4 linked regions of the Homo sapiens genome follow. The protein of the gene in region 1 purifies or fractionates together with the protein of each later gene. This does not show direct contact. Each region holds a gene or a part of one and is shown in the gene's direction. Other genes may lie near its edges.

Region 1 (4,170 bases):
GGTCAAGGCCTGAACCCAAAGATAGGCCAAAATATAGAGGTTGGCAGTGGGAGGATTTCAGCAAAGGAGACCAAGAAGAAACAATCAGTGTCCCAGAAGTCAAGTAAAGAAAGTATTCCGTGTAGGAGGAGCATTCAACTGCATCAAATACCATGGAGATGTCAAGTTATAGGAGGACTGAGAACTAGGCATCAGATTTGGTAATACACTGCTCATTAGTGACCTTGACAAGGTCCAACTCAAAATCCATCCCATATTAGAAATTATTTTATTCATTTGTCATAGCATGCTTCACTCATATCTTTTAGCAGAATTATTTTCTATGTGTCGATCACACAAAGTTGTTCATTTCAAGAGTGACAGAATGACCAACTGTACCAGACATATTGCTCCAAAAACACTTTGTTTTGGAAACATGTCTGCAGACATCCATTAAGAATTTAAGATGACAGTTATTCCAAGGCACCGTAAGATTCTTACTTGTAAAAGTAATTTTTTTAAATGTAGAGGACCCACTAGGATAGGCAATATTGGTATAAAGGTGATTAAATTATAATCTTGCAAAGATAAAGGTTAAACCAATACTTTCTTTAAAAAAGGTTTTGCTGGCTAGCCTATAATAATTGTATCCCACTTCTTATACTACAGTGTTAAAGTAGAACTCTGACCTTACAGGAGATAGTTTAAAGATAAATATGTATTTACATTGAATATCACCTGAATTAAACATAATTCTTTAAGGGAGGAAAGAAATGCAAAGAGTATGTGGCTTCAGACTTTAATTTTACAGATCAGGAACTAGAAGGTCAGAAAGTTTGTCACAGAAATGAGGCTTGAATCTAGAACTCTAATTTGTGAGTGCCCTTTGCCTTCCTAGTGCACAGCAGCAAGTCACTTACCCTGTTTATCAAAGTGAATGTCTCTATCCCAAGGGAACCTGCCAGGATCAGAGGTGGGGAGGGAGGGGAGTTATGGCTTCACTCCTGCCCTGGCTGGCATTCCCATTTTCTGTTTCTCATTTTGGTTGAAGTACTTGCAGCTATACAATGTCTCCGTTGGGAATCATGCTTATGAGAACAAAGGTACCAAGCAATCTGCTATGGCAATCTGTCAGCACTTCTACAAGCGAGGAAACATCTACCCTGGAAATGATACCTTTGACATCGATCCAGAAATTGAAACTGGTGATGTTCTTCTATAACCTAGAACCTCAATTTTTAACACCTCAATTTATATTTAAAATTAGTAATTTCATCTTTGAAAACATTGATTTGGTCTGTGATATTAGGACATAGTAAGAATGATATACGAGTTATTATGTGTCAGGTACTGTTCTGAGCCCTTTACTATAACTCAAGAATCCTCAAGGAAACCCAGCAAGTCAAGGATTATTATTATCCCCTTTTATAGAAGACTAAATTATGGCTCAGAGAGTTAAATGATCTGCCAAAGATGGAGCTAGAAGAGGCAGTGCTGAAATTGGGCTCAGGCTGTTTGTGTTCTTAGCTATCGTATTCCACCATCTCTTGTGCAGGATATGCCAGTGAAGTATTAATAGATAGATATAATGTTTGTAAAACATTATGCTTGCAAACTCTTGGTATATATAAAACTCTCCTGCCCCAATACCACTTCACTATCATGCATCTTTGGGGGTAGATTGAAGGGGAGGAATGAAAATCAGAACATGGAATAGCATGGCGTATTCTTCTTAGCAAAGTTCTATTTGCAATTATGCCTAAAATATTAGCTTAGGTCATTGAGTTAAAAAATAAGTATTGAAATACTTTTAACAACAGCCACTAGGATTTTTTTTTCTAGAGATAATACTGATAACAGTACTGAAAGGGAAAACTTTCTAAAATGCTGTCTTCCTTTTTTGGTGTGTGTGTGGGATGTCTATTGAAGAAACATTGTTAGTGCATAATATTTTAAAAATAGATCCCTCAAACTGCTTAGAAAATATTACTGTAATTACTGCAAGTGCTTCAAATCCTATGCTTAGGATACAAAAAGGGGGAGGGACTCAAAGTTTATCTAGGCTTAAAAACGAAGACAGCATTTATATAACATTAATGAAATAGAGTTCAGATCTTTGTCTAGCCTCCATCCACTCCAGAAATGTAGCCACTTAGGTCTTAAAAACACATGAGTCACGGTAACCATGTGGTATCAATGTTTATTTAGCTTTTAAAATTTTAATTCAGAAAAATAATAGAATCTGAAAAATAATAGAATCTGAATAACTGGTCTTAAATGTATCAGCCTTTCAAAATGCAGTCTTATTTAAGTACTGTATCATGTTTTTGTTCCTTTCTATGGCAGAGTGTTTCTTTGTGGAGCCAGATGAACCTTTTCACATTGGGACACCAGCAGAAAATAAACTGAACTTAACACTGGACTTCCACAGGTGAGGGGAGCAGACAGGAGTGTAACTTACGTTTGCACGTATATATTGCCACAGAACTAAAATCACCTCTGTTTTCTAGACTCCTAACAGTGGAGCTTCAGTTTAAACTGAAAGCCATTAATCTGCAGACAGTTCGTCATCAAGAACTCCCTGACTGTTATGACTTTACTCTGACTGTAAGTGTGGGCCAGGCTGAATTTGGTTCCAGTCTGGAGAAAAATTGTTTTATCTGGTAATGTTTCATATCCTTGGATTACGGTGTGATAAAAAAATATAGGATGTTTTCACTTGAATGTGCATAAGGGAAGCATTGATACATCTAGCTCTATTTTGCTATAATAACAAGTTTACTTGTTAGTTATGTCTTCTACACCTCTGTATAAGTTCTAGAAAAGCAGGGACCTTGTTTTGTTCACTACTATTTCCAGTACCACGAACAGTGCCTGGTATAGATTTTCAAACCCAAAAGGAATAGGTGTTTTTAGGTTCTGTGTGGTTGGCTCTCAGCAATCTATGGCTGGCTGTCAGCTAAAGGTTACTGCCAAGGGTTCTTGTTACTTAGTGTCTTCACCATGGATGTTTCCATGTTTGGGGTTTGTAGTATACATCTTTAACTTATTACAGTCTACCTTCAAGTTATACCACTGCACACAGTGTAAGAACCTTACGACAATGTACTTCCATTTCTCCCATCTTGGCCCTCATGCTATTGTGGCCATATAATGTATTTCTACATGTGTTATAAACCCACAATATATGTTATTAATCTCTCTCTCTCTCTCTCTCTTCTTTTTTTGAGACAGAGTCTCGCTCTGTCACCTAGGCTGGAGTGCAGTGGCGCGATCTCGGCTCACTGCAAGCTCCGCCTCCCGGGTTCACGCCATTCTCCTGCCTCAGCCTCCTGAGTAGCTGGGACCACAGGCGTCCGCCACCATGCCCGGCTAATTTTTTGTATTTTTTTTTAGCAGAGACGGGGTTTCACCGCGTTAGCCAGGATGGTCTCGATCTTCTGACTTCGTGATCCACCTGCCTCAGCCTCCCGAAGTGCTGGGATTACAGGCGTGAGCCACCGTGCCCAGCCTATTTTTTCTTTAAACAGTCAATTATCTTTTAAAGTGATTTAAATAATAATAAAAACATTTTTTTATTTGCCCATGTAGCTACCATTTCCAGTGTGCTTCATTCTGTGTGTAGCTCCCAGTTTGTATCTGGTATTATTTTCCTTCTGCCTGAAGGGCTTCCTGCAACATTTCTTACAGTGCAGGTCTGCACTTTCAGCTTTTGTATGTTTAAAAAAGTATTTTGCCTTCCTTTTTAAAGTTCTTATTAGCATCTTTTAAATAAAAATTTTACGAATACGTATTTATGGGGTACAGGTGATATTTTGATGCCAGCATTCAGTGTGTAATGATGAAATAAGGGTAATTGGGACAACATTCACCACCTCAAATATTTACCACTTTTTTATGTTGAGAATATTCTAAATCTACTCCTCTATTTATATTGAAATATAAAATAAATTATTAACTATAGTTGCCATATTGTGCTACTAAACACTAGATCTTATTTCTCCCATCTCACTGTATTTTTTTTTTTTTTTTTGAGATGGATTCTCGCTCCATTGCCAGGCTGGAGTGCAGTGGTGTGATCTTGGCTCACTGCAACCTCTGCCTCCCGGGTTCAAGCGATTCTCCTGCCTCAGCCTCCGGAGTAGCTGGGACTACAGGCACACGTTACCACGCCCAGCTAGTTTTTGTATT
Region 2 (4,577 bases), about 39 Mb from region 1:
TGTGTTGGGTTTTCTTCCATTCTTATACATACTTACTAGGAAAAATCATGTATTTCTTTAACTCCTAAGACAAGTACTGTTAACATTTCATTTTGGGGGATATTACCCCACCATTCAGGAAGCAGATGGAATACAGAAAGCTCAAAAAAATCTAACTGGTCTTCTGGCTTCCTCTGTCTGCTTCCAACCCATTCTCCACAAAAAAAGTAAAGGTTCTCTTAAAACAGAAATTGGATTATATTGCTCCCCTGCCTAAAACTGTTCTATGGCTATCCACTTCAAACAAGCATCAACATCACCTAGAAACTTCTCAGGAATGCAAAATCCCACCCTGCCCCAGACCACTGAATCTAAAACTCTAGGGATGGGGCCCAGCACCTCTGTTTTAAGAAGTCATCCAGGTGATTCTGACGCAAGCTAAAGTTTGAGAACCATTGTGTTAAGCTAACTGCTTTCTATGTATGATGTTATTTAAACCTGGCAATTCTTATGTATTGTTGCCAGCAGAGTGCAGTGGTTAAGAGCAGAATCTGGAGCTAGGCTGAGTTTCAATTCCACCTCTCCTAGCTTTGTGATATTAGGTCTTATTTCTTTATCTGCGACAGGGATAGTAATAGCGCCTATAGCCAGCACGGTGGCTCACTGCCCATAATCCCAGCACTTTGGGAGGCCAAGGCGGGCGGATCACTTGAGGTCAGAAGTTCAAGACCAGCCTGGCCAACATGGTGAAACCCCGTCTCTACTAAAAATATAAAAATTAGCTGGGTGTGGTGGCGCACGACCGTAGTCCCAGCTACTCAGGAGGCTGAGGCAGGAGAATCGCTTGAACCCAGAAGGCGGAGGTTGCAGCGAGCCGAGATGGTGCCACTGCACTCCAGCCTGGGCGACAGAGCGAGACTCCGTCTCAATTAAAAAAAAAACAATAATAATGATAATAGCGCCTACCTCATGGGGTTGTTGTGGAATTAAACATCATCAGTAAGGTGCTTAGAACAGTGACAGAACCTGGATTTTAATCTCCCTTGGCCTCCAATAGCTGTGCATGCCCCAGGACTAGGTAACGGCCTTGCCCAGGACGGGTATGGGGCGGGTGGTGTGTGCCCTGTGTCCAAGGGTTGCAGCCCCTCTGACCCTGGCGTGCCCTGTGATCTGGTCCAAGGTGCTAGGCCTCTGACTGGAGTCGGGCTTGCCATCGGCGGTGCTGGGGAGCGGGCTGCTCTCGTGCAGGCAGCCCCACCAGCCAGCCGGGCTGCGAAGCTGCCTAGCACGGTCTGAGCATTCGCCTTACTCGCTGGCTGCTTACACCCCGACGCCGCTGCCGCCACCGCCGCCGCCGCCGCCGCCGCCCTAAGCACCGCCCGTCGCCCTCTCACCCCGCGGCAGCGGCGGCGGCGGCGGCGGCGGAAGCGGGGGGGCGGGCCAGGCCGGGGCGGGGCCGCAAGCGGCATGGAGGAGGCGGAGGCCGCGGCGAGCCGGGCCGAGCAGTGAGGGCCCTAGCGGGGCCCGAGCGGGGCCCGGGGCCCCTAAGCCGTGAGTGCCTCCGCGTGGGTGTCCGGAACGGGTAGCGCTGCCGGTGCAGGTCTCCTGAGCCCTCGGGCGGCTCCGGGCCCTGGGAGGAGGAGAGAAGCTGGGGCAGATAGGATGGGACGAGGGTTGAAGACTGGGGCAGGAGAGGTCGCTCTTTGCTCACCACAGGCTTGGGAAGGCCTGGAACTTGGTCCTTGTAGGGGCTAACGAACTTTGAGCCGATTATTTGGCCTCCACCCTTGGACAGCCTTGATTCAGAGAGTTACTCCAGTCTCAGGGAATTTCCAGGTGATCCAACCCCACTGAAGGGTTTCCTGCCAGCCCAGAGAAGTTGAGCCACTTTCCCCATGTCACACAGTATGGGTGCTTGCAGGGAAGAGTTGCTGGGAGGTCCTCCCTCATCTCCCCAGAAGGCATCAGACTTTGGGAGGAGCATCTTACCCCATGTGGCCCTCTGGTCCCTTCAGATTCCTGAAGTCATGGGCTGGCCAGGACATTGGTGACCCGCCAATCCGGTATGGACGACTGGAAGCCCAGCCCCCTCATCAAGCCCTTTGGGGCTCGGAAGAAGCGGAGCTGGTACCTTACCTGGAAGTATAAACTGACAAACCAGCGGGCCCTGCGGAGATTCTGTCAGGTATAGAGATGTCCCAAACCCTCCCCACCGAGCGCTCCCTCCCAGCTTCCTCCCCACCTAAATCAGGCACTGGGACCCCTGTTGGCCAGCCCCAGTGGGAAAGGGGCAGCAGGTTCCTAGAGGGGAGACCTCTATGTGTCATGTCCCTATAGGTAATGATTTGAACCCAAAGTTCTGGAATCGGAACCCAAGTACAACTTCTAAGCTTCTGACGGAAGCCTGAAGTCTGATCAGGCTGGCTTTGCAGAGAGGCACACCCCTGTGAGGCAGTTAGGGCCAGGACCCAGGTCTGATCCCCCGCTTGGGTCCCTGGGCCTGGCTCCATCTCTAGAAACCAACAATGGAGGGGACCAAGGAAATCAAGGTCTCAAATAGAAGAATACAGGAGCACTGGGTAGGGAGGGCCCTAATGGAGGGGGAAGTGTCAGGGGAGGTTCCCTGGGGAAAGTGGCTGTGAAACTAGGCCCTGGTCAGGGGAGTAGAGCTAGGCAGACAGAGGAAGGGACAGGACCCAGTTTCTCTGGATGTCTTCACTGCAGCCAGGGCCCTCCTTTCAGAAAGACCCTCTAGGATCTGAAGGAGGTGCTCCTCTTAATCATCCCTACCCCTCCCCTCAGACAGGGGCCGTGCTTTTCCTGCTGGTGACTGTCATTGTCAATATCAAGTTGATCCTGGACACTCGGCGAGCCATCAGTGAAGCCAATGAAGACCCAGAGCCAGAGCAAGACTATGGTAGGGCTAGGCTAAGGATGGGGTAGGGGGCCTTGGATCTCACAGCTGGAGTGGCAGGCAGACCCTAAGCGGTGAGACTCTGCTGAGGAGACTATCTCCATGACCTGTTGTACCCCACAGATGAGGCCCTAGGCCGCCTGGAGCCCCCACGGCGCAGAGGCAGTGGTCCCCGGCGGGTCCTGGACGTAGAGGTGTATTCAAGTCGCAGCAAAGTATATGTGGCAGTGGATGGCACCACGGTCAGTGGGCCAGGGTCTGGTGTACAGTCACTCTATTCTGCTCAGGGCATGGTCCACTGGCAGCAGGGTCTACTGCCTAAGTGGGAACTGCAACTCTGCCAGTTTCTAGCTGTGTGACTTTGGAGTCCTCGATTCCTTATCTATAGACTGGGACTAATGATTTCTACTTGTCAGGATTCAATGAAAAGTTTGTGAAGTGTCTTGTATGTAGTGGGATCTCAAAAGTAATCATTCATAATAGTAGGCAGTCAATTCATTGATTTATTTTATAACCATCCCCTGGTCCTTTCTTTGGCCTCAGCCTTGTGCTGGGCACTGGGGACCTGAAAGTAATCAGACCTGGCCCTACCTTGAGGGGTTCAGTGTGGTGGAGGATTGTGATACTTCCAGGATGAAGCAGAGACAGCAGAGGCTCTAAGAGCCATGAAAGTCATGGAGGGGAGGGTTGTAGAAAGACGTGATCTCTTCTGATGGGAGTGCTATAGAGGCTTTCTGGAAGAGGTGGCCTTCGAGCTGAGTTGGAAAAGAACTGTGTGAACAGAAACATAGGCAGGAGGTGATGTTTCAAGCAGCTGGTGTTTTAAGTACCCCTAAGACAGAGACACCTTGAATGCCAGAGTGAAAAGCTGGACTTTGTCTCTGCCACTGTGTAGGTGCTGGAGGATGAGGCCCGGGAGCAGGGCCGGGGCATCCATGTCATTGTCCTCAACCAGGCCACGGTGAGTTTCTAGGGGTGGGTGACCCAGAGGGCTGGAGCTGGGCTCTTGCTGATGACACCAACTCACCAGAAGTATATCCCCTGCCAGGGCCACGTGATGGCAAAACGTGTGTTTGACACGTACTCACCTCATGAGGATGAGGCCATGGTGCTATTCCTCAACATGGTAGCGCCCGGCCGAGTGCTCATCTGCACTGTCAAGGTCAGTTATTCTGTCCTGACCCTGACCCCTACTCCCTAGCTCCAACCCTGCTTCTAGCCCCGGCTTCTCTGCCCCTCATATAACATAGTGGGAAGATTCTCTGAAGGAAGGTTACTCAGGTTCCAATCTCAGCCTTAACATTTGTATTAATTCAGCAAATAGTTATTGAGCAACAGCTGTATGCCAGGTACTTCTCTGGGTGCTGAAGATACAATGGGAAACAAGACAGAGTCCCCACCCTCATGGAGCTTATATTCCAGCAGTGGGAGGTCAACAGAAACAGCCAAGTAAATGTGGATAATGCTAGTAAATGATAACTTGTATAAAGAAGAAAATAAAGCAGGGGATAATGAATGATAGAGGGGAGGGGACATTTTAGAAAGAGAAGGCCCCTGCAAGGAGATGATATGTGAGCAGAAAGCTGAGGAATTGAGGAGTGAGCCAGGTGAGTATCTGGAGGAAGAGCATTCCAGGTGGAAAGAATGGCAAGTGCAAAGCCCCTATAGTGGGAAGGTACACGGC
Region 3 (3,802 bases), on another chromosome or scaffold:
TCTTTTGCTGTATCTCTCCCCTTAGAACCATTCCAGAAAATCTCTGCTCTGCCCTCCCACCTCCATGCCCTCTCAGGTCACAGTGCCTGCCTTCCAATGCCATTATGTCGTTCCTAGACCCCACTGTTCTCCAGACCTCAGACATCCAGCTTGCTGCTCCTGACCCTATCCTTCCCTGCATCTTTCCCTTCCTCAGGAAGGAGTCTCGAGGGGGCCCTTCCCGCCGGGGTGTGGCCCTGCTTCGCCCAGAGCCCCTGCACCGGGGGACAGCAGACACCCTCCTCAACCGGGTTAAGAAGCTGCCTTGTCAGATCACCAGGTGGGAAACAGCAGCGAGGAGAGGCCCACTGGGGTGGAGGGGCCATTTCAGGAGTGCTCTGGGAGTGGGCGCTCCATTGTAAAATAGCTGTCACTCATTGGGCCTAGTGCTGTATGGTTTGTGTAGATCATTTATGGCAAAGTCATTTTTATCCATATTTATGTTTGAAGAAAAGAGGCTCAGAGAGGTCTGGAGTCTCAAATGTAGTAAGTAAAGAACTGGGATATGAACAAAAGCTCCTTCAGTGAGGCTGAAAAGGAGCAGTGGGGGTGGGGTGGGGGTGGGGAGGACACACACTTGTAGCTAGGGCAGGCTCTGGTAGCATCTGTGTACCCATCGTGGCCCCTCTGCCCTGTTGTTATTCCACCTTGGCTCCGGGCCCCTGTGTGCCTCAGTGTCTGCACCTGTGATGAACCTGCCCTGCAAGGTTGCTGAGGAGATTAAGTAAGGTAACATGTTCTGAAGGGCTCCTGCCTTGCCTGGGTGCTTGAGAGCACATGGTAAATCCCAAATAAAGCTCAGTCGTGGGTACTGATGATGTCAGAAGGAACGGAAATAACCACCTATATCTTATAGTGGAACAGACACTGGGAATTTTCTTTTGCTGGGAGTTAGGAGGCAGCTTCTAGAATACCAAGGAACAGGGTGGACTTAGTGGTTGGTTGTTGACAGTGTGCTAATTAGTCAGGGAGGCAAGCCATATTTGAGGTTTTGAATTATAACCATCATTTTTTAAAGCATTATTTATTTGGGGACCTTTAATATGTTGTACTTATATTTTAACAGAATCATAATCTGATGATAACTTTGCATTTACTTATTATGTATAGACAGTTACATCATAAAACTCTCAGAATTCTGTACATACAGGATATGTGTGCACTGAGCCACAATATAAAATGTTTATCTTACAAAGGTTGCAGTAAGAAAAGTTTGCAAAACACTAGCCTGGTACATATTTCATTAAGGCTTGAAAGAGGAAAGTAAAGCTGTGAAGGTCAGGGGTAAAGCAGGCCTTACAGTCTGTGAGTGCTAGGGCTGGGATGGTCCCCAGCACAGTCCCCAGGCCTCAACAGGGTTGGGGTTTGTTAACCTGTGTTCCCCACAGCTACCTGGTGGCGCACACCCTAGGGCGCCGGATGCTGTATCCAGGCTCTGTGTACCTGCTGCAGAAGGCCCTCATGCCTGTGCTGCTGCAGGGCCAGGCCCGACTGGTGGAAGAGGTGAGGCTTCCCTGCCCGCACATCCCCTAAAGCCCTCCCCTCTCACCCCCACCCACCCCGCCCCACCCCTGTGATGTGGCCTCCTGACCCTTGCATCTTGGCCATTGCGTCTTCCGTACTCAGTGTAATGGGCGCCGGGCAAAGCTGCTGGCCTGTGATGGCAATGAGATTGACACCATGTTTGTGGACCGGCGGGGGACAGCTGAGCCCCAGGGACAGAAGCTGGTAAGAGGGAGCAGAGAGCCCAGAGGTGGGGTGAGTGTGAGGAAGGCAGTAGAGGTCTGGGGACCCCAATGCTATAGCACCTCCCTGAAGGAACCACTACTGGGGATAATCTCATGTCCTAGCTCCACGCTAAAGACCTTGTGATGTAGTGAAACCCTGTGATAGAGAAACAGATGAAGTAGGAGAGACGTTCAAGGACGAGAAACTAATATTAATAGTTACCACTTTGACAGCACTTCACACTTATATATATTTAATTCTCATATATATATGAAGCATATATATTTAATTCTCAAAAGAATCCCGTGAGATAGGTACTGCTTATATTAGCCCATTTTACAGGAGATGAAACTGGGGCACAGAAAACCTTTCCTGGACCTCACAGTAAGTGGTAGAGCTGGTATTTGGACCCAGGCAGCCTGGCCTCAAAGTCTCCTACCTCCATGAAGCAGCCGTGGAAAGAGCGCTAAGCCAGGAGTCTAGGGAGCTGGGTTCTAGTCCTGGCTCTGCCCATCTGTTATGAGAGTTCATGCAAATCCCACCATTCGTGGGTTTCAGCTTGGGGCGCCATGGCATTACAGTTTATCTGACCATAAGACTGGAGCTCAGAGAGGGATAGGGAGAGCAATCAGCATACCACACAATAGCAATGGTCACAGAAGATAACAGACCCGAAAACGAGAAAGGAAAAACATCTCCATAGTCCCCTTCCTGAAAGAGATCCAGCTGGTAATCTTCCAAGGAAAAGACATGGCTGGGTGGTCGAGCAGGTCAGCCTCTGAGGAGTATTTGTAATCCCTTTGCTTCTCCTCTTATGGACCCTGTGGAATGAGAAGCTTCCATTCCCCTTGGAGAAAACAGAAACCTGCCCTTTCCTCTTCCCTGCAAAGCTCTTCATGGGCTGCCCTCCCTGCCCAAAGGGAGTTTTTCAGTCCCAACTTGGCCCCCCAGCCCTTCCTTCCTGCCTCCTTCCTAGGTGATCTGCTGTGAGGGGAATGCTGGGTTTTATGAGGTGGGCTGCGTCTCCACGCCCCTGGAAGGTAGGACGGTGACTCAGCCTCCTTATCTCCGCCCTTTGAAAGGGAATGTCCCTGCCTCCCACACTGACCTGACCTCCCCTGGCCTCTGCTTTCTCTGGGTGAGGTTTTGAGTCTCTCAGCTTTAGGGAAAAGTCCACTCGCCATTTGCTTTGATAACCTTACATCCCTCCCCTGGCCTGTGTCCCTAGCTATTATGCTTTTCATTCTGTTCCATTCCCCCACCACACACCCCACACAATCACATGCTGCTCCCTGTGCTGCCTCAGAACCTCTGGTGTCATCTCCTATTTCTGGGAAGGCTTGGAGTTATTTGCATCTAAGCTGGGGGGTACTTCTGCTCTTCCTTCCCCCAGGGATGGAGAAAGGGCTGTGGGCCACAAGGTCTCAGTCCCTCCTCCCCCTGTGTTACAGCTGGATATTCAGTCCTGGGCTGGAATCATCCAGGCTTTGCTGGAAGCACGGTGAGACCATCTCAGGAATCCCTTCCTTTTCCTGAATTATGTCTGTTTCCCTCTGGTCAGCCATTGGAGGGAGGAGAGGGGCTGTGGATTTCTTGAAGGCGTCCCACTCACCTGAGGGCTGGGGTCTAGGAGGTTGTGAAGGCAGCATTGGGAGCCATGCCCCCATCCCCACAGTGCGGGGCTAGCAGGAGAGGAGGAGGTAGATCTCATTGTACACATCCGTCTTCTGGAGAGAACAACCTCTCCTACCATCCCTTCCTTCTACACCTTCTCTGCCTGTCATAGGTGGCTGCAGGAGGGGTCCACGTTGGGAGGGACAGGTGAGCTGGCCTTTGGTGCTGACACACTCCTGACTTTGCCCTTTCTCCTGCAGGGGGTGCCATTCCCGCAGAATGAGGCTAATGCCATGGATGTGGTGGTCCAGTTTGCCATCCACCGCCTAGGCTTCCAGCCCCAGGACATCATCATCTACGCCTGGTCCATCGGCGGCTTCACTGGTACCAGCCTCCCTCCCATCCCCCACTGTAGACACAT
Region 4 (3,867 bases), on another chromosome or scaffold:
AGCTTCAGGGAGGTGCTTCCCGGAGTTCCCAGGTAGCCTGTGGGCTCAGAAGGATTCCTGAGACTGAGAGCAGTTTGAGTTGAAATGTTGGCTTAAATCTTGATGAATGAACATTTTCATATCCTGTTTCTAGGCCTGAGGGTTTTGTTGTTAATGTTGTGGTCTTTCTATTTTATGTCTCAACTTAGTGGAACAGGCAGTGTTGAGAAGTCAGGTATCATGGATTCTGGCCTCGGCTTTGCCATGGACCAGCTGTGTCACTTTGAACAAGTCATGGAATCATAGTAGGACTTTAGAGCAAACTTAGAGACTTGAGAGGAAACTTAGAGAAGAGCTGACCAAACCTCTTAGGTGTCAAAATAAGGCAATGAGTGAGGGTAGAAATGAGGTGAAGCAGAAAGGGTCTGCATGAGGTCAAGGCCCAAGGTCATCTGCACATCCCTGCAAAACACTGCCTGCCTGTGCTTTGGTTTTTGAGTCTGTAAAATGGACAATTTAGAGTAGATGGCCTTAATTATTCGTCCATCCACAGATTTCACGTTTCTGTTTCTACCCTGTACGTCAGTTGGATTATTTAATTTTCTGTGTAGTAGATTCTACCTGACCAAGTTCAATAAAGAAAATAAGTGTGTCTTTCGTCCTTAGAGTTTCATTCCAGGGCTTTATATTACAAGTTGGCAGTGGAGCAGCTGCAGAGCCATCCCGAGGCACAGGAAGCTCTGGGCCCTCCTCTCAACATCCATTATCTCAAGCTCATCGACAGGGAAAACTTCGTGGACATTGTTGATGCCAAGGTAATGTGCTTTCCCTGCGAACCGCAGGCTGGTGCCTGCTGAAGGAGAGGAGAGTCTACTGTCTCCTGGAAAGTCCTGGAGTTAAGGATTTGGGATGGGAAAATCCACTAAGTAAAGCTAGGTTTGGCACCTTTAAAAAAAGTTTTTCTATTATGGATTTTAATGTTTATATAAAATATATTTTATATTATAGATATTTCTGTATACTTTTCTTCCATTCTGGGGAATTGATGTGGCAGGGAATGCAGTGGGTATGCTGATGTCGCCATCTTGAATTGAAGGTAGTAGAGAAATGACCAGTGGTGGTTTGCTACCATGTTGGCTTTGATAGCTCTCAGCACTTTGGGAGGCTGAGGTAAGAGGATTGCTTGAGCCCTGGGGTTTGAAACCAGCCTGGGCAACACAGCAAGACCCTGTCTCTCTCTCTCTCTCTCTCTCTCTCTCTCTCTCTGTCTCTCTGCCTGCCTGCCTGCCTGCCTGCCTGCCTGCCTATCTATCTATCTATCTATCTATCTATCTATCTATCTATCTATCTATCTAATCTATCTATCTATAATTTAGCCAGGCGTGATAGTGCACACCTATAATCCCAGCTACCCAGGAGGCTGAAGCAGGAGGATCGCTTGAACCCAGGAGTTGGAGGCTGCAATGAGTTATGATCATGTCACTGCACTCCATCCTGGGTGACAGAGTGAAATTGTCTGTAAAATTAAAAAAAAAAGAGAAATGCATCTATATCCAGTCAGTGCTCATTCAAATGTACCCAACTCTTTAAACTTTGATTTTTAAAGTGTATTTATTTACATTGCTTCCACAGAATACCAACCCATTTTTTTAGCTATAACTTATCTTTTTGTACTTGATCACACTCACTTGCATGTAAAACACATTTGTTCTGTTTAACAAACATATTTTGAGTATATGCTCTGGTTTGAGAAATGATTCTAAGCTATGTGGGGAATAGAGGTGCAGAAGGCTTTTGGGGGTTTACAGTTGAAAATTCCTGAGTAAGACAGGGTGAGGGAAACCCTGTCACTATTGTGCAGGCCTAGGGGAAGTGGCTCGAGGCCTGGGAGATGGCTGTGAGGACTTTGAAAGGTGGAGAGGAACACCCGGCTGAGGAGCAGCATGCCTGGGAAAGTTCATCACTGTGTCGCCTGTCAGTGTGATACGGCAGTGGAGGCACAGGTGGGCGAGGTGGGTGTGGGCAGGTAGGAGGGGCTGCGGCCACCAGGGGCCACAGTGTCATCTTGGAAGGTGTGTGCTTGACTCTGGCAGCAGAAGCCCGTAAAGTATTTGGAGGATGAGTGAGGTGATCCGACCTACATTATTTTTTGTTATTTTTAGTATGTTCTTAATGGACCCAGCTCTAATGAGACTTTTTTCTAACTACAAAAGCAATTCATGCTCTGGTATTCTGATTAAAATATTCGGTTTTAAAAGAAGGTGGATTTGTGTAGATTGGTAATGCCCAGGGACTGGCTACGGGGAGCCATCTTTAGGAGAGAGATGTGGCCACACTGGTGTGCAGTGGTGAGAGCATGAACCAGAGGTGTGGCCTGGAGAAGCAAAAGACGGATGTGAAGCCATCGTGGCATCCAAGTGACAGAACTTGGTAACAGTCATGTATCAGGAGCGGGTGGGTCAGAGGTGATGGTCCAGTGTCCAGCATGGACGTGAGTGGAAGGACGGCAGCGACACTGCGTGAGAGAGGACATCCTGGAGGAGGAGCACAGGGAAGGGCTGGGCATGTGTGGAGTGCTCACTCTGTGCCAGGCCACCGGATTGCTCCCATGGTGTGGCGGAGCCTGTCTGTTGCTTCCTTGCCTTTGGTCACTTGGCTAGACCCCAGCAATCCTGAGAACTTGGAAAAGCCACTGGGTAGGTCTGGCTGTTGCGTTTCTCTCAGCACAGAGCCCAGCTGTAGCACTGAGGAATTGTGTGCCAAAGGCGCCTTTGCTGGGGCTGGTTGATGCAGCATCCATGATCTGGTGCTCCAGGAACCCCAGTGAGAGTAGGGTAAGGCCATGGTGGTTTTGGTGGGAGCTTTGTCCTGTCCAGCTTTCACTTTGGCCCCAGTGGTGCTGAGAGGGCGCCTTCCTGGGCTTCCCCACATCCCTGGGGCCTTGGCCATGCTGTGACTATGTTGGTTGTGGTGCTAGGTTCTGGCTTCTACTGCGGCCAAATGCTGTGACTCTGCAGTGACAGGAGTTCAGAGTCTGCTGCATCATGGCCACCTGGAGCCTCAGTGCACGCCTTCCAATTTGTGGACTATTTTTGACATTCTGTCAGGGTCCTTTCTTTATAATCAGCGGTTTGTGAGGATGCCTGTATACAGCATATGCCCTCTTATCCCAAATTCCTTTATTTGCAATTTTTACAGTTTTTCCAGAGGTGAGATGTTTCAGTTGTTCATGAAGTAATTGTCATACATTGGGATTTTTTCCCAAGTATGTGTGTGAGATAGTCACCAGTGACCAACACTTTGCTTTACCAGAACTCCTGCTTTAATCTTTGGCAAGGTCTGGCTGGTGAAGGAACCAACCTGTAAAGTGTCACATCTACCCATGGAAGCACAGCTGCCCACAGTTCAGACATTGGCCCCTCAGAGTTTGCTCTTCTTCAGAATCCTTCTTGCTTCTGCCCATTTCTTTCTCCTTCCTTTTTAAATTTTTTTTTAAAGCATCCAGAGATGCTCAGTGTATACTCTGTTGCTTAATTCTATAATTTCCAGAGAAAAGCTGTAGCTTGACTCAAACAGTGGGACCCTGAAAATTTGTTCTTTTTTAAAATTTTTTCTTGAGATGGAACCTTGCTCTGTTACCCAGGCTGGAGTACAGTGGTGTGATCTTGGCACACTGCAGCCTCCACCTCCCAGGTTCAAGCGATTCTCCTGCCTCACTCTCCTGAGTAGCTGGGACTATAGGTGTGCGCCACCATGCCCGGCTAAGTGTTTGTATTTCTAGTAGAGATGGGGTTTTGCCATATTGCCCAGCTGATCTCGAACTCCTGGCCTCAAGTGATCCACCTGCCTCAGCCTCCCAAAGTGCTGGGATTACAGGCGGAAGCCACC

The links. The genes of interacting proteins can lie anywhere in the genome.
Region 2: the proteins of MCOLN3 (region 1) and POMGNT1 purify together in Homo sapiens (affinity purification with mass spectrometry; 3 studies listed by BioGRID and IntAct, with this or other methods). This does not show direct contact.
Region 3: the proteins of MCOLN3 (region 1) and ABHD16A purify together in Homo sapiens (affinity purification with mass spectrometry; 3 studies listed by BioGRID and IntAct, with this or other methods). This does not show direct contact.
Region 4: the proteins of MCOLN3 (region 1) and COA1 purify together in Homo sapiens (affinity purification with mass spectrometry; 3 studies listed by BioGRID and IntAct, with this or other methods). This does not show direct contact.

What each region holds. Positions count from the first base shown.
Region 1 is NC_000001.11:85,031,112-85,035,281, reverse strand, and holds part of MCOLN3 (mucolipin-3), read left to right. Parts: intron 1-1,030; coding exon 1,031-1,184; intron 1,185-2,325; coding exon 2,326-2,410; intron 2,411-2,489; coding exon 2,490-2,586; intron 2,587-4,170. UniProt on the Homo sapiens protein: Nonselective cation channel probably playing a role in the regulation of membrane trafficking events. Acts as a Ca(2+)-permeable cation channel with inwardly rectifying activity.
Region 2 is NC_000001.11:46,195,289-46,199,865, reverse strand, and holds the start of POMGNT1 (protein O-linked-mannose beta-1,2-N-acetylglucosaminyltransferase 1), read left to right. Parts: upstream 1-1,431; 5' UTR 1,432-1,530; exon of another isoform or gene 1,531-1,815; intron 1,816-1,994; 5' UTR 1,995-2,044; coding exon 2,045-2,164; intron 2,165-2,316; exon of another isoform or gene 2,317-2,504; coding exon of another isoform or gene 2,505-2,558; intron 2,559-2,781; coding exon 2,782-2,896; intron 2,897-3,016; coding exon 3,017-3,135; intron 3,136-3,376; exon of another isoform or gene 3,377-3,565; coding exon of another isoform or gene 3,566-3,664; intron 3,665-3,788; coding exon 3,789-3,854; intron 3,855-3,941; coding exon 3,942-4,055; intron 4,056-4,577. Other genes in the region: TSPAN1 (tetraspanin-1), read right to left, coding at 3,566-3,664. UniProt on the Homo sapiens protein: Participates in O-mannosyl glycosylation by catalyzing the addition of N-acetylglucosamine to O-linked mannose on glycoproteins.
Region 3 is NC_000006.12:31,689,544-31,693,345, reverse strand, and holds part of ABHD16A (phosphatidylserine lipase ABHD16A), read left to right. Parts: intron 1-196; coding exon 197-319; intron 320-1,427; coding exon 1,428-1,542; intron 1,543-1,665; coding exon 1,666-1,767; intron 1,768-2,029; exon of another isoform or gene 2,030-2,588; intron 2,589-2,743; coding exon 2,744-2,807; intron 2,808-3,218; coding exon 3,219-3,268; intron 3,269-3,379; exon of another isoform or gene 3,380-3,641; coding exon 3,642-3,765; intron 3,766-3,802. UniProt on the Homo sapiens protein: Phosphatidylserine (PS) lipase that mediates the hydrolysis of phosphatidylserine to generate lysophosphatidylserine (LPS). LPS constitutes a class of signaling lipids that regulates immunological and neurological processes.
Region 4 is NC_000007.14:43,642,178-43,646,044, reverse strand, and holds part of COA1 (cytochrome c oxidase assembly factor 1 homolog), read left to right. Parts: intron 1-645; coding exon 646-794; exon of another isoform or gene 795-799; intron 800-3,867. UniProt on the Homo sapiens protein: Component of the MITRAC (mitochondrial translation regulation assembly intermediate of cytochrome c oxidase complex) complex, that regulates cytochrome c oxidase assembly.